Linked DNA regions of Homo sapiens. Each later gene encodes a partner of the first gene's protein in a complex. Each region holds a gene or a part of one and is shown on either strand. Other genes may lie near its edges.

Region 1 (2,972 bases):
GGAGTGCAGTGGCAGGATCTCGGCTCACTGCAACCTCCACCTCCCAGGTTCCAGGGGATTCTCCTGCCTCAGCCTCCCGAGTAGCTGGGATTACAGGCACACGCCACCACACCTGGCTAATTTTTGTATTTGTAGTAGAGATGGGTTTTGCCATGTTGGCCCAGGCTGGTCTCAGACTCCTGACCTCGGGTGATCTGCCCGCCTCAGCCTCCCAAAGCACTGGGATTATAGGTGTGAGCCATTGCACCCGGCCTCTTTCTTGGTTCTTAATACCAAATCGGAAGCAACCCTAGACCTTTCTTCCACTAATCTGTCACCAAGGCCTTCAGATTCCTGCATGTCCCCACCCTCAGCTTCGTTCTCCCGACTCACCCTGCCCCCCGCTCCTGCCAGGCCCACTATGTATAAATACATTAACCCTCTCCTTCTCTGTTCTTCTAGAGATCAGTGGTTTTGTGGTAATCACTGCCTCTGAGTACTTGATCTCACATCAGATGACAGGGCCCAAGGTGGATTGTGTAAGATACAGAACAAAAATGTAAAAACCAGAAAACAAACATAAAAGCATCACATTTCAAATAGGACATAAAGGTCCCTAGATTTTTAATCAAAATATTTTACAATTTTTGCTCTGCTAGCATGAGATCAACAAGAAAACCCAACAGGAATACATAAAAAACTTAACAAGTTGACTTTAATAAGTAAAAATTACAACATTCTTCTCCCAGCAATGAACAATTTCATTTTTTAAAAGTAAACGAGGCCTAAAACAAGAGGGCACAGGAACAAGTAGTCAGATGGATTTAGGTGAGCACTGTACACAAGCTTTGAGGAAGTGCAAAGGACTGACCTCTAGGCCAGAACAAGATGGAAAACTACCAGGCCCATCAGGCCTATAACCCAGACACCAGCATGGACAAAACTCAGTTATACTGAATTCAGAGACAAAATTCAGTGACACTCTTCTACCACTTATTTAGGGTTCTACAGCATTTCACTGAGCAGACTTAGTTTTTTGTTTTTGTTTTACAAACCTTTTAAACAGAGGGGATTTAAAAAATGCAAACTAGGACTACGATGTTAAGACAACCACTAGCAGACAGCTGCGGACAGTTACTGGGTCTGAAGGTGAGGCTTCCCAACTCAAACAGAGAAGTCATTGGGATAAACTCTGCCTCTTTCATCTTTCACCACCCATATCCTTAAAACAGGACAAGATGGGATGACCACACCAGGTAACATCACCGAGGTCTCAAAGTAGCAGCTAAAATGTGCCAGAACTCTTCACCCTGTCTAGGACCTATGTTCCACTCTCTCAGCAACAAAAGGATCTATAACATGTTTTCTCAATAAGGCTTTAGTTTCTCCTCCAGCTTCAAGTGGCCTTCACTACTCAGAAACCAATTCTACCTCTTTTGCTTTCTTCTTCTTCTTCTTCTTCTTGGTGGTATCACTGTCCTAGAAAGAAAGAGAATGAAAGCTCACAGATACCATCCACTAACAAAGCTATGACTCTCCCAGAAGGAAATCTGGTAAAGGTCCACAGTCAAGCAAGCCTTTTTCAGGACCTGTAAGGATATTTTGGGTTAAATGCTGCATGTGACACAAAGTTCTGTAAACCTTTCAGTGACACCCTAGTGGTCTACTTTTGGAAGTGGAAACATTCAGATCACCATCCTACACATCCTCTCCACCCACCATCAATAGAGCTCTAAGTATAAGTGGTAGAGGTCGGGTGCCTCTATCTGTCCATTCCACAGGGAGGGCAAAAGCACTCCAGGAACATGGGGAAGCACTAAAGGCACTCGGTGGCATCCCACCCCCAGGCCACAGCTCCTCCAAGAAGAGTAACAAAGCTGGTACCACCTGGGTAATTCTTTCCCCACGCAGGGACTAAGCCAGCCCAAGGAACCTGAACGTGTTTCCACACACCCCATCTCCAGGCTCGGCCCCGCTCTCCAGACCAGCTTTGGCCTTCTTGTCCTTCTTACTCTTCTTCTTTTCCTTCTTGATCAACTGAGGAGCTGCTGGAGGAGTCTCGTCACTTTCACTCTCACTCTCTCGCTTCCGCTGAGATGAAAGCAATTGGTTAAGTGTTAGATCTTGGGCAATAATGGACAAGAAAGGTTCAGTGAGTCAAAAGGTAGCAAGGCACCAAGAAAGATCCCAACTGAATCTAACAGGACGTTTTCTGACTACAAACCCGGACAGGGCCTTAGTTTACTGAGGATTTGAAGACAGTCTCATCCCCCAAATCCAAGAAGCCTTGAGGCAGGCACAAGAGAAGGAGCACAGCAGCAGCACGGGGCTTGGGGTGGAAAGGCCCGGAGGAGCTGTTTCTCTCATGACTGCAAGGACCTCTCACAGAAAGCAGGCAAAGCAGGAATTCACATCTGACAAGTCAGAAGCTCCTCCCACACAGCCTGTGCAGGATACTCAGTACCGCCCCCGGTTTCTGAGTGCAGACCTGTCATTCTGTGCTCTAATGCCAGCAGCTCCATGGGGTGGAGTTGCCAACCCATGCTTGACTGACTCTTTCAACACTGGGTGGTGCCAGGTTAAGATGCAATTCTGCTCTCTGCTGAATTTTGTATGGCCTCGAATGTCCAACAGCCATGGCCTCTGATTTCAACACATCTGTCCTACCATTTGACCCAGGGCGGGGGCCAGAATTGACACACACACCACCACCCATTCCATCACTGTGTTGCTGCCATAGCTGAGGTAGGAGTCGAGGCCCATCTGATTCCTGAGCCCACATTCCTCCTCCCAGCAGATAGGACAGAGAATACAAATCAGAGGAGCCTGCAGAGCCCAAACAAGCACCCCAGGGTATGAGGCAGCATTACCTGTGTATGCGCTGCACCTCTGATGCTAGCGTATATGGCTGGACTGCGGACAGTCACAAAGTAAGACGAATGCCAGTGCCTCTTAGGATTATCTCCCTAAGCACATTCCAAACTGAGGACAGC
Region 2 (3,809 bases), on another chromosome or scaffold:
GCTCCCTCTGCAGACATCCTGATTTGGGGCATGGGGTGTCACAAGGCCCCCCAGGGACTCGAGTGTGCAGGGGAGCTGGGGAAGCCCTGATCTTCTGACTAAAGCCCTCCACAGTCAGCCTGGGCGGGACACGGAGAAGCTAATACCATGGCCTGGGCTCAGCCAGGCTGGCATCTCCCAGACCAGCGCTCCCGTCCCTCACTGATGCAAATCCAGCTTGAATCTGTCACAATCTCACACTCTCATCAGCCGAACATTGCAGACAAAATCTCACAGCCATTCAAATGCAGCCACCTAGAAGTTAGCTCATGGTGGAACTCTCCTATCCCCAGGTGCTCCCTGCACAGGTGCTCCCTGCAGTGAGTCGCCAAGTGGGTGGGATTTTATCCTCTCATGACCTAAATCCAATAGATTGAAGATTCATACAGAACAGCATGAATTAAAAGAGAATCGGGGGCTGGGCACGGTGGCTTAGCCTGTAAACCCAGCACTTTGGGAGGCCAAGGTGGGTGGATCACCTGAGGTCATGAGTTCGAGACCAGCCTGGCCAACATGGTGAAACCCCGTCTCTCCTAAAAGTACAAAAATTAGCCAGGCGTGGTGGCAGGTGCCTGTAATCCCAGCTACTTAGGAGGCTGAGGCTGGTGAATCGCTTAAACCCAGGAGGTGGAGGTTGCAGTGAGCCAAGATTATGCCACTGCACTCCAGCCTGGGCAACAGAGTGAGACTCCATCTCAAAAAAGAAAAAAAAAAGAGAGAGAGAATCAGACCCACATCCCAGGGAAAGGCAAGGAGGCTAGTGGTAGTGTTTCCATCTAATTTAAATCCCTTCTGCTTTACAAACCCTAGAGACCACTTGGCACAAACTCCTGATTTTACAAGTAAGAGAACGTGAGCTCCAGGCAGTCAGAGCCTTGCACAGAATCCACTTGGACCAGGCCTGTGACGGGGCCCCTGGCTCCCAGCCCAGAGCTGCACAGCCAGGGAAGCACAGGCAAGTGGAGACAGGCGCATGCTGAGGCCGGGCTGGTGTTCCAGGACTTCGAGAAGCAGAGGCCTGGCGTGGGGATACAGTACCTGATTCCAATGCTTTGCAACTTGCTCCAGACACTCTTCCGGTAGAAAAAGAGCCTGTTCTTTTGAAACGTGGTCTCCGTGACATAAAAGAAAGACCTGAGCAGCTCGACGACGTACACACTCATCAGCCAGTGCAGGAACTTGGCCAGGATCTCCTCACGCAGACGGTGCTCTGCGGCCGGAACACAGCCAACCCCTTAAACGAGAAGGACATGCCACATCCAGATCACCGAGGGCCTGGTGACCTCACCCCGGACCTGCACCATCCGGACACCGCACATCCAGCTCACCAAGGGCCTGGCGACCTCACCCCAGACCTGCACCATCCGGACACGGCACATCCAGCCCACCAAGGGCCTGGCGACCTCACCCTGGACCTGCACCATTCGGACACGGGGACACCGCATATCCAGCTCACCGAGGGCCTGGCGAACTCACCCCGGACCTGCAGCATCCAGACACCACACATCCAGCTCACCGCAGGGCCTGGCGAACTCACCCCGGACCTGCACCATCCAGACAACACACATACAGCCCACCGCAGGGCCTGGCGACCTCACTCCGGACCTGCACCATCCGTACACTGCACATCCAGCTCACCGCAGGGCCTGGCGACCTCACGCCAGACCTGCACCATCCGGATACAGCACATCCAGCTCACCGCAGGGCCTGGCGACCTCACCCCGGACCTGCACCATCCGGATACAGCACATCCAGCTCACAGCAGGGCCTGGCGACCTCACCCCAGACCTGCACCATCCGGACACCACACATCCAGCTAACCGCAGGGCCTGGTGACCTCACCCCGGACCTGCACCATCCGACACCGCATATCCAGCTAACCGCAGGGCCTGGCGACCTCACGCCAGACCTGCACCATCCGGATACAGCACATCCAGCTCACTGCAGGGCCTGGCGACCTCACCCCGGACCTGCACCATCTGGATACAGCACATCCAGCTCACAGCAGGGCCTGGCGACCTCACCCCGGACCTGCACCATCCAGACACCGCACATCCAGCTAACCGCAGGGCCTGGTGACCTCACCCCGGACCTGCACCATCCGGACACCGCATATCCAGCTAACCGCAGGGCCTGGCGACCTCACCCCGGACCTGCACCATCCGGACACCCCACATCCAGCTCACCGAAGGCCTTGGCTACCTCACCCCGGACCTGCACCATCCAGACACCGCACATCCAGCTCACAGCAGGGCCTGGCGACCTCACGCCGGACCTGCACCATCCGGACACCACACATCCAGCCCACCAAGGGCCTGGCGACCTCACCCCAGACATGCACCATGCAGACACCGCACATCCAGCTCACCAAAGGCCTGGCGACCTCACCCCAGACCTGCACCATCCGGACACGGCACATCCAGCCCACCAAGGGCCTAGCGACCTCACCCTGGACCTGCACCATCCGGACACGGGGACACCGCACATCCAGCTCACCGAGGGCCTGGCGAACTCACCCCGGACCTGCAGCAACCGGACACTGCACAACCAGCTCACCGCAGGGCCTGGTGACCTCACCCCAGACCTGCACCATCCGGATACAGCACATCCAGCTCACAGCAGGGCCTGGCGACCTCACCCCGGACCTGCACCATCCGGATACAGCACATCCAGCTCACAGCAGGGCCTGGCAACCTCACCCCGGACCTGCATCATCCGGACTCCATACCTCCAGCTCACCGAGGGCCTGGCGACCACACCCCAGACCTGCACCATCCAGACGCCGCACATCCAGCTCACAGCAGGGCCTGGCGACCTCACCCCGGACCTGCATCATCCGGACTCCATACCTCCAGCTCACCGAGGGCCTGGCGACCACACCCCAGACCTGCACCATCCAGACGCCGCACATCCAGCTCACAGCAGGGCCTGGCGACCTCACCCCGGACCTGCATCATCCGGACTCCATACCTCCAGCTCACCGAGGGCCTGGAGACCTCACCCCTGACCTGCACCATCCGGACACCGCATATCCAGCTCACAGCAGGGTCTGGCGACCTCACCCCGGACCGGCACCATCCGGACTCCATACATCCAGCTCACCGAGGGCCTGGCGACCTCACTCCAGACCTGCACCATCCAGACACCGCACATCCAGCTCACCGCAGGGTCTGGCGACCTCACCCCGGACCTGCACCATCTGGACACTGCACATCCAGCTCACCGAGGGCCTGGCGACCTCACTCCAGACCTGCACCATCCAGACACCACACATCCAGCTCACAGCAGGGCCTGGCGACCTCACCCCAGACCTGCACCATCCAGACACCACACATCCAGCTCACAGCAGGGCCTGGTGACCTCACACCGGACCTGCAGCATCCGGACACCCCACATCCAACTCACAGCAGGGCCTGGCAACCTCACCCCAGACCTGCACCATCCGGACACCGCATATCCAGCTCACCGCACGGTCTGGCACCGTCTGGCGACCTCACTCCAGACCTGCACCATCCAGACACCGCACACCCAGCTCACCGCAGGGCCTGGTGACCTCACCCCAGACCTGCACCATCCAGACACCACACATCCAGCTCACAGCAGGGCCTGGCGACCTCACCCCGGACCTGCATCATCCGGACTCCATACCTCCAGCTCACCGAGGGCCTGGAGACCTCACCCCTGACCTGCACCATCCAGACACCACACATCCAGCTCACAGCAGGGCCTGGCGACCTCACCCCGGACCTGCATCATCCGGACTCCATACC

The links.
Region 2: DKC1 (region 1) and TERT share a complex: the UniProt entries of both Homo sapiens proteins name them as parts of the telomerase holoenzyme complex.

The regions. Positions count from the first base shown.
Region 1 is NC_000023.11:154,775,285-154,778,256, reverse strand, and holds the end of DKC1 (H/ACA ribonucleoprotein complex subunit DKC1), read right to left. Parts: intron 2,071-2,972; coding exon 1,933-2,070; intron 1,459-1,932; coding exon 1,390-1,458; 3' UTR 568-1,389; downstream 1-567.
Region 2 is NC_000005.10:1,281,352-1,285,160, forward strand, and holds part of TERT (telomerase reverse transcriptase), read right to left. Parts: intron 1,274-3,809; coding exon 1,078-1,273; intron 1-1,077. UniProt on the Homo sapiens protein: Telomerase is a ribonucleoprotein enzyme essential for the replication of chromosome termini in most eukaryotes. Active in progenitor and cancer cells. Inactive, or very low activity, in normal somatic cells.